Homo sapiens: one gene and its partner. The protein of the gene in region 1 purifies or fractionates together with the protein of each later gene. This does not show direct contact. Each region holds a gene or a part of one and is shown in the gene's direction. Other genes may lie near its edges.

Region 1 (4,865 bases):
GGTTTTGGTTTTTGCAGTATCTCATACTTTGTAAAATATTGCCAGTGAGTACATTGTTTTTGTATATTTACATTTATTTTTTCTGTAACTTTTTATTTTGAAGTAAATTCATATTCATAGAAAAGTTTAAGAATCGTACAAAGAATTCCTGTATCCCATTCACTCATATTCCCCAGTTATTTTACCACACTGTCTTTCTCTAGCTCTGTCTACACACACACCTTTTTCTTTAATTTTTTAGTGACTAAAGGGCCAGCTACACACACTTTTTTTCTAAACCATTTGAGAGTAAGTTATAGACATGATGTTTCTTTACTCCTAAATACTTATGTTTCCTAGGAAAATGGACATTCTCTCATATAACCAGAGTTTAATTATTAAATCAGGAAATTTATACTGATACAGTGCCATTCTCTGTAGACGTTATTCTTCCAAATGCCTTAATAGTGCTTTTTATGCCAACACTCCCCCAACCCCCACCAAAATATTGTTCCAGAGTACAATTCAGGATCAAATATTGCATTTAGTTGCCTCTACTTTTGGGTTTGTTTAGTATTTTTGCATGATTAGGTTGATCAGTTTTGGCAGGAATACCGCAAAATGGTACTTGTCCTTTTCTGTCACATGGTGTGCCACCTGATATGATTCTTTGTCACTTATTGGTGGTGGTAATTTTGATCACTTGCCTAAGGTTGTATCTACCATGTTTCTCCTGTTTTTCCTGAAACTTGGCTGTTTGCTTGGCATATCTTGTCGGACAGACTGAGTTAAGATTCATGTTTTCAACCCAGCTCCTTGCCATGATCTTCAAGGTCCCGCTGAGCCCACCACTCTCCCGCATTGTTCACTGTGCTCCAGCCCCACTGGCCCTCTTTTCACGCTGGGAGCACATAAGGCTTGTCTCCGGGCCATGCACTCACTATTCCTTGTACTTGGAATACCGTTCTCTGAGACCATTACATGCATTCCTCCTCTTGTTGTGCAGGTCTCAAATCAGGTATCTCCTTTAGAGGCCTTCCCTCAGCACCCAACGACAGCAGGCATGAGCCACTGTGCCTAGACCACACTGTTTTGATATATGGTTGTTGTTGTTGTTGTTGTTGTTGTTGTTGTTTTAATTTTTTTTTTTTTTTTGAGACGGAGTCTCACTCTGTCACCCAGGCTGGAGTGCAGTGGTGCGATCCCAGCTCACTGCAAGCTCCGCCTCCCGGGTTCACGCCATTCTCCTGCCTCAGCCTCCCGAGTAACTGGGACTACAGGCACCCGCCACCATGCCTGGCTATTTTTTTTGTATTTTTAGTAGAGACGGGGTTTCACCATGTTAGCCAGGATGGTCTCGATCCCCTGACGTTGTGATCCGCCCACCTCTGCCTCCCAAAGTGCTGGGATTACAGGCGTGAGCCACCACGCCCGGCCCCCTCTTCAGTTTTTTAAATGGACTCCAGTGAAATGTGTAATGATGGGGAGGAAATACCTGCCCTAGAAATGGACTGCAGTGTCAGGGATGGTTCCAAGAAAATTGATAACTATGTACAGGAGAAAAAAAATAACCTTATTGTGGCAATTTATTTTCCTTTGCACAGATAGATAATAAATGCTTCTTGGTGATGATGAAATAATTCGGATTCTCTGTTTTTTCCTTGAATTTTGCCTTCCAAAAAAGAGGAAGTCAGATGGCAGGATTATGCATGTTTTTTTATTTCTAATTTTCATTACTTCTCTAAGATATTTTTCTAAAATAAATATTTTAAATAACATAACATGTTTTCTAAAACAAGCAGGTTCTTCTCTTAGGATGAGGAAAAAAGTCATTTTTAAAAAGGTAGGGAGGCAGAAGAAATTGAGGGAGCATCTGAGAGGTAGTTATTGAAGGTTAACATTTAAAATCCATTCTTAATATTTGAGACCATTCCATTTCTGGAATTCATTAAAATCTTTTGATGTTTTTCATCAGTAATACTTTAATATTTAGTTCTGCAGATATGAAGGAGTTATCATGCTTTAAGATCTTCTGTTGACTTTTTCAATGAGGTTTGAAATGTCTCCAAGTCCATTAACAAAGCCTTCTAACTGTCCCCATGCCCTTTATGTTTATTCCTAGGAACTGAAGGCTATTTACGAGCAGACTCACAAGAGCCCTCCCACTTTGATTCTCAGCAGCCTGCAGTCTTGGAAGAAGAAGAGGTCATGATAGCTCATGCTCATCCACAGGAAGTCTACAATGAATATGTACCCAGAGGGTGCAAGAATAAATGCCATTCACATTTCCACGATACACTCGGCCAGTCAGACGATCTCATTCACCACCATCATGACTACCATCATATTCTCCATCATCACCACCACCAAAACCACCATCCTCACAGTCACAGCCAGCGCTACTCTCGGGAGGAGCTGAAAGATGCCGGCGTCGCCACTCTGGCCTGGATGGTGATAATGGGTGATGGCCTGCACAATTTCAGCGATGGCCTAGCAATTGGTATATATCTACATATTTGTTCCTTGTTGATTGATTCTGAAAATGTCACATTAAACACCTAGTCAAATTTTAACAAAGAATAGATTAGTTTAGATGAGGATATTAGTGACTTCCAAGATTATAAAAATGTTACTTTTTCTTTTACTACTTTGACAATGAAGTGCTCAATAAATGTTAGGTATGATTAAATGCTAGGAATTGTACCTAGCCCATTACCTAAATTGTAACTGTCAAAAGCTGTTCTTAAATTGCAAGGTCTTAAGATCAGTCTTTAATTTGTATGGTGCATGTATGAGATTTTTTTTTCTCCCTATACATTGAAGTTCCCTTATCGATAATATAATATTTATAAAAGTAAAATTATATTTTCCATCATCTTTTATGCTAAAGGAATCTTCATACATCTAAGTCCAGTTACCAGTCTCTATCCTATGAAGAATTATAGAACTTTTGCTAATAAATTGTTATACCACAATTGGGAGATAACAGAATACTTACAAATTTTAATAATTTAGTGCTGGAAGGAACCATGCAATTAGGCAGCTGAGGCCTGTCAAGGTGACGCCACTTGTCCAAGGAGGCTGTGCTGTGTTATAGCTAGGCCTGGCCTTGGCTCCCTGGGAGTCGAGTGCTCTTCCTCTTGTACTATATTATGCAGAGCTGAAACAGACAAAGGAGGAATGTCCGATTGCACAGTCGGCTGGGTGCGGTAGCTCATGTCTGTATTCCCAGCACTTTGGGTGGCCAAGGCAGGAGGATCGCTTAAGCCCAGGAGTTCAAGACCAGCCTAGACAGCATAGTGAGACCTTATCTCTACAAATAAAAAAAAAAAAAATTAGCCAGGTATGGTGGTACACACCTGTAGTCCCAGCTGCCTGGTAGGCTGAGGTAGATGGAACGCTTGAGCCCGGGAGTTTGAGGTTCTAGTGAGCTATGATCTCACCACTATACTCCAACCTGGCCAACAGAATGAAACCCTGTCTCTGAAAAAAAAAAATATATATGCACAGTCATGGTTTATAATTGATTGATTGTATAATATGTCAGATTTTTAAAAGGGGACGGCTATTTGTCTTAGAGTTTTCTCACTGAAACAGTGAAAGAATAAATGTAAACATCTAGTTACATAGTAAATTCCTCTGAGGCAAGTGAAACATGTTTATACCCTTGACAGGAGAGTTTTTTCCTAAACCTTTTAAACAGTTTATTTTATATTCTTGAATATGCCTTTTATATGGTAGCAGTTACTCCTCAGATTTGTATAACTTTATCCGCTCATTCTAAGGCCTAGAAAACCTTCCCTTCTCTTTCATGCCCGATGTGCTCCTTTGGGAAATTTAGACCTCATGGAATGTACTCTAAGATTTCTTACAAAGAAGATACAGAGTTGGTTTGGGAAACTTCTATTCATTCACAGCCAAAATACCATTTTCTTGTTACCTCATTTTGCATACTGATAAGATTAAAAAACACAAATTAATGTAGCCAAACTTTTTCTGATTGATTTTTACACAGGTGCTGCTTTTACTGAAGGCTTATCAAGTGGTTTAAGTACTTCTGTTGCTGTGTTCTGTCATGAGTTGCCTCATGAATTAGGTAAGAGAACCACATAAATTGTATTTGCCAAGTGGGTGAAATGTTCTAGTGTCACTGGCTTTTGCTAATGGTAGTTCAGCAAGCTTCTTCATCAATTTCATGCCTTCTCATAAGTCTGCTAACCAGCATACTGATGACATCAGGGATCATCTTCATACACACAAGGTGAATAAGACTACAGGATACAAAGGAATCATCTTCCATTAACAAAAGTTGAGAAAGAGAATCTCATTGGAATTGAAGGGAAGTGGATGAGTTGTGTTTTCAATATTGTTCTTCTTTGTCACTAGGCATTAAAACCTTCCCAAGTTCTGGATCCCAGTTCACGTCCTTGTTTTTCTTGTTTTGGAGATATATTCACACACATACCGCTGATGCCATTTTCACTTTTGTTCCTTGTTATATGTTCAGCCATTCCTTATCATCTTCAGCATCTATGTTCCACATTCAAGTCCCATGAAGCCCCTCTCTTATTTCCATCTTCATGTGTCTCTTTTCTCCTTTTATAATTGTAGCATTGAACTCTTCAGCTGTTTTTTATGCATTACCATTATCATTTGCTGATCATCTCATGTGTGTTCTCCACCCATTCCTCCCTTCTTTGTGGCCAAATTCCAAGCTCCTTGAAAACACTGCAAGACCACAATATTAAATTTTTAGTGTTTATCATTTTGACAAAGTGTAAGCCTTAAAAAATTTTTTTGGTTAAGGTATCTGGCCAGGTGCAGTGGCTCACGCCTTTAATCCCAGCACTTCGGGAGGCCGGGGCAAGGGGATCACCTGAGGTCAG
Region 2 (4,865 bases), on another chromosome or scaffold:
TGCCCAACATGGTGAAACCTCGTTTCTACTAAAAATACAAAAATTAGCTGGCCGTGGCGGTGGGCGCCTGTAACCCCAGTTACTCAGGATGCTGAGGCAGGAGAATCGCGTGAACCTGGGAGGCAGAGGTTGCAGTGAGCTGAGATTGTGCCACTGTACTCCAGCCTGGGTGACAGAGCAGGACTCCATGTCAAAAAAAAAAACAACCAAAAAAACACAAAAATTAGCTGGGTGTGGTGGTGGGCACCTGTAATCCCAACTACCTGGGAGGCTGAGGCAGGAGAATCGCTTGAAACTGGAAGGCGTAGGTTGCAGTGAGCCGAGATCACGCCACTGCATTCCAGCCTGGGCGAAAGAGCAAAACTCTGTCTCAAAACAAAAAAAAGAAAAAAAGACTAAACGCACACATAAGGGAAGCAAGACCCTGATAGCAACAGCAGACCAGGTGCTAGGCCCAGCCCACCTGGGCTATGTGTTCAGAAAAGAGGGAGAGGAGGCCACTGGAGGCCCAGAGGTTAGAGAAAGCTTTTTGGAGGAGGTGGGACTGGAGCTGGCCCTTAAAGGGTGGTGAAGAACTTGAGCTTGGCTTAAACTAGGCCAAGAGGAAAAGAAGGCATTCAGGCTAAGGGAGGAGCCTGAGCAACAGTGTGGGTGTTAGGGCCTCATGGTGTGGTTTTTCTGGAGCGGTGAGTTGAGAGAGGAAGGCTATGTTTAGAAGACATTAGTGAGTTTTCAAAGTTGAGTGAGTGTGAATAAGGAGGACCAGTGCTTGGTGTGGGGCTCAGGACCCTTCCAGTTATGGGAGGAGCGACCATGTTCTTTCCCTTGACCCAGGGAGCCCCGGATGCTCCAGGCAAGTCCCCAGTGGTGGCTCTGAGTCCCAGGCTTCCACCACTTTTCTTGGGACTTCTGGACTTCCTTCAAACGTGGGCTCTCTGCTCTGGTCAGTGGAGCCTCATCCTGGATCCTGACGCCTGCTCCCTCCCTGGATTCAGGCTGCTCTCCAATTCCCTTTTTCCTCAGGCTGTGTGTGGTTACGGATCACAGGAGGCACTGCCCATGCGCCCCGCCAGGGAGGGTGAACTCTACTTTCCTGAGGATCGAGAGGTGAACCTGGTGGAGCTGGCCCTGGCTACCAACATCCCCAAAGGCTGTGCTGAGACAGCTGTCAGAGGTGGCTGCCGGGGTCCTGCATGGGTTGGGGATGGGAGTTGGGCCGTGAAGAGAAGTGGTGATGGGCTGGCTGGTGGAAGAGGCAGAACTTGGAGGGGTAGGCGGTACTCTAAGGGGCAAAACGCCAGGCTGACACATCTCTCTGCACTGCTTCTAGTTCATGTCTCCTACCTGGATGGCAAAGGGAACCTGGCACCTCAAGGATCGGGTAAGGGGTGATGTAGGAAACAGGCTCTTTGGATGAATTTTCTCCCTTAGGTTCTGAGGGTGGTGCCTATGTGCCCCCGAGTCTGCGTCTAACATGTGTTTACCCATGCCTGCCTTGTGCCATGGTCTGAGTGGGCGCTGGGCTCTGCATGGAGGGCTCAGAGTTGGAGATGGGGGCCCAGACCTGTAACTAGTCATAATGCAGCATGTTGGATGCTAAGACAGAAGTCTGGGCAGCATGCTGGGGCGGTGTTTCACCCCCAGGGTATGCTGAGCAGAGCTTCACAGAGCCTGAAGCTCTCAGGAGTCCGTCTGGCAGAGGGTGGGTGGAAGACAGGACAGAGCACAGAGGTGTGCAGAGCCTAGATGGTCAGGGCTGAGCAGGCTCTAAGAGCAGTCTCTTGCCCTGGTTGTCCTGTCAGAAAGGCTTCTTGTGGATGTGTGTGGGGATGGTGGTTGAGGGGGAGGAGGCTGGAGAGGCCAGGAGAGGGCCAGCTCTCCACCTGTCCCTGCTTCCTGCCTGTCCTCTGGCAGTGCCCAGTGCTGTGTCTTCACTGACAGATGACCTTCTCAAGTACTATCACCAGGTGACTCGTGCTGTGCTAGGGGATGATCCGCAACTGATGAAGGTGAGCGAGTGGGCCCAAGTTGGGGCACAAAGTTGAAATTGTAAATTCTAGACCTGTTTTTTTTTTTTTTTTTTGAGACAGAGTTTCGCTCTTGTTGCCCAGGCTGGAGTGCAATGGCATGATCTCAGCTCACCGCACCCTCTGCCTCCCAGGTTCAAGTGATTCTCCTGCCTCAGCCTCCTGAATAGCTGGGATTACAGGCGTGTGCCAGCATGCCCGGCTAATTTTGTTTTGTTTTGTTTTGTTTTTGAAACGGAGTCTTGCATTGTCACCCAGGCTGGAGTGCAGTGGCGCGATCTCGGCTCACTGCAAGCTCCGTCTCCTGGGTTCATGCCATTCTCCTGCCTTAGCCTCCCGAGTAGCTGGGACTACAGGTGCCCGCCAACATACCCGGCTAATTTTTTGTATTTTTTAGTAGAGACGGGGTTTCACCGTGTTAGCCAGGATGGTCTTGATCTCCTGACCTTGTGATCCACCTGCCTCAGCCTCCTAAAGTGCTGGGATTACAAGTGTGAGCCACCGTGCCCAGCCTTATATTTTTAATAGAGACGGGGGTTTCAGCATGTTGGTCAGACTGGTCTCGAACTCCCGACCTCAGGTGATCCACCCGCCTTGGCCTCCCAAAGTGTTGGGATGACAGGTGTGAGCCACTGTGCCCGGCCTAATTCTATGAACATTTAAATTTTTATTTATTATTTTAATTAAAAAAACATTTTTTTTAAGATGGGGTCTTGCTCTGTCACCTAGGCCGGAGTGCAGTGGTGTGATGTTGGCTCACTGCAGCCTCTACCTCTTGGGTTCAAGCAATTCTCCCACCTCAGCTTCCCAAGTAGCTGGGATTACAGGGGCATACCACCATGCCTGGCTAATTTTTGCATTTTTAGTAGAGATGAGGTTTCACCGTGTTGGCCAGGCTGGTCTCAAACTCCTGACCTCAGGTGATCCACCCGCCTCTGCCTCCCAAAGTGGTGGGATTACAGGCGTGAGCCTATATATATATATATATATATATATTTTTTTTTTTTTTTTTTTTAGAGACAGGGTCTCACTGTATTGCCCAGGCTGGTGAAACTCCTGCCCTCAAGCAATCCTTCCTTGGCCTCCCAGCACTTTGGGAGGCAGAGGTGGGCGGATCACTTGAAGTCAGGAGTTCGAGACCAGACTGTCCAACATGGTGAAACCCCATCTTCACTAAAAATACAAAATTAACTGGCTGTTGTGGTGGGTGCCTGTAATCCCAGCTACTCGGGAGGCTGAGGCAGGAGAATTGCTTGAACCCAGGAGGCAGAGGTTGCTGTGAGTCAAGATCACACCACTCAGGTGGATCACCTGAGGTCAGGAGTTCAAGACCAGCCTGGCTAACATGGTGAAACCCCGTCTCTACTAAAAATACAAAAATTAGTCACGTGTGGTGGTGGACGCCTGTAATCCCAGCTACTCAGGAGGCTGACGCAGGAGAATCGCTTGAACCTGGGAGGCAGAGGTTGCTGTGAGCTGAGATTGTGCCATTGCACTCCAGCCTGGGCAACAAGAACAAAACTTCATCTCAAAAAAAAAGATCACGCTGCTGCACTCCAGCCTGGCTGATAGAACGAAACTCCGTCTCAAAGAAAAACGAAAAAGTAATACTAGTACATGTTTACTGTAGAAGTACATATAATATAAAAACATAGAAAAAGAAAGTGGCTGGGTGCGGTGGTTCACGCCTGTAATCCCAGCAGTTTGGGAGGCCGAGGTGGGTGGATCATGTGAGGCCGGGAGTTCGAGACCAGCCTGGCCAACATGGTGATTTCCCGTTGGATATCTACTAAAAATACCAGAAAATTAGCCGGGCTTGGTGGCATGCGTCTGTAATCCTAGCTACTTGCGAGGCTGATGCAGGAGAATCGCTTGAACCCAAGAGGCAGAGGTTGCAATGAGCCGAGATCGCGCCACCGCACTCCAGCCTGGGCAATAGAGTGAGACTCCATCTCAAAAAAAAAAAAAAAAGGGCCGGGCACGGTGGCTAACGCCTGTAATCTCAGCACTTTGGGAGGCCGAGGCGGGTGGATTGCTTGAGGCCGGGAGTTCGAGACTAGCCTGGTCAACATGGCAAAACCCTGTCTCTACTAAAAATACAAAAATTAGCTGGGCGTGGTGGTGGGCGCCTGTAATCCCAGCTACTTGGGAGGCTGAGGCAGAAGAATTGCTTGAACCCAGGAGGCAGAGGTTGCAGTGAGCTGAGATTGAGCCACTGCACTCCAGCCTGGGCGACAGGGCGAGACTCCATCTCAAAGAAAAAAAAAAAAGAAAAAGAAACTGAAAAGTCTATTCCTCCACCTACTTTTTTTTCTCTGTATCAACTATGATTACTCTCATAAAAACCTAAGTGGTATTATATTAAGCATCTGGTTTTATAGATTGCCTTTCTCAGTTAAAAATGTTGGATGGCCGGGCGCGGTGGCTCACGCCTGTAATCCCAGCACTTTGGGAGGCTGAGGTGGGCAGATCACGAGGTCAGGAGATCGCGACCATCCTGGCTAACACGGTGAAACCCCGTCTCTACTAAAAAATAGAAAAAATTAGCCGGGTGTGGTGGCAGGCGCCTGTAGTCCCAGCTACTCGGGAGGCTGAGGCAGGAGAATGGTGTAAAACCTGGGAGGTGGAGCTTGCAGTGAGCCAAGATCGTGCCACTGGGCGACAGAGCGAGACTCGGTCTCAAAAAAAAAAAAAAAAGTTGGACATTCAGGTTGTATTCAGGGCCATATGCAGGTATATGTGAATGAGTTTCTGTAGGTTACATTTATAGAAATAGAATTGCTAGATCAAAGAATATGAACATTAAAATTGTAAAACATGAATAAGGTGATACACTGT

Evidence for each region. The genes of interacting proteins can lie anywhere in the genome.
Region 2: the proteins of SLC39A6 (region 1) and TAF6L purify together in Homo sapiens (affinity purification with mass spectrometry; one large-scale study listed by BioGRID and IntAct). This does not show direct contact.

The regions. Positions count from the first base shown.
Region 1 is NC_000018.10:36,111,711-36,116,575, reverse strand, and holds part of SLC39A6 (zinc transporter ZIP6 isoform 1 precursor), read left to right. Parts: intron 1-2,101; coding exon 2,102-2,479; intron 2,480-3,994; coding exon 3,995-4,075; intron 4,076-4,865. UniProt on the Homo sapiens protein: Zinc-influx transporter which plays a role in zinc homeostasis and in the induction of epithelial-to-mesenchymal transition (EMT).
Region 2 is NC_000011.10:62,776,955-62,781,819, forward strand, and holds part of TAF6L (TAF6-like RNA polymerase II p300/CBP-associated factor-associated factor 65 kDa subunit 6L), read left to right. Parts: intron 1-1,023; coding exon 1,024-1,174; intron 1,175-1,330; coding exon 1,331-1,381; intron 1,382-1,914; coding exon 1,915-2,009; intron 2,010-4,865. UniProt on the Homo sapiens protein: Functions as a component of the PCAF complex. The PCAF complex is capable of efficiently acetylating histones in a nucleosomal context. The PCAF complex could be considered as the human version of the yeast SAGA complex.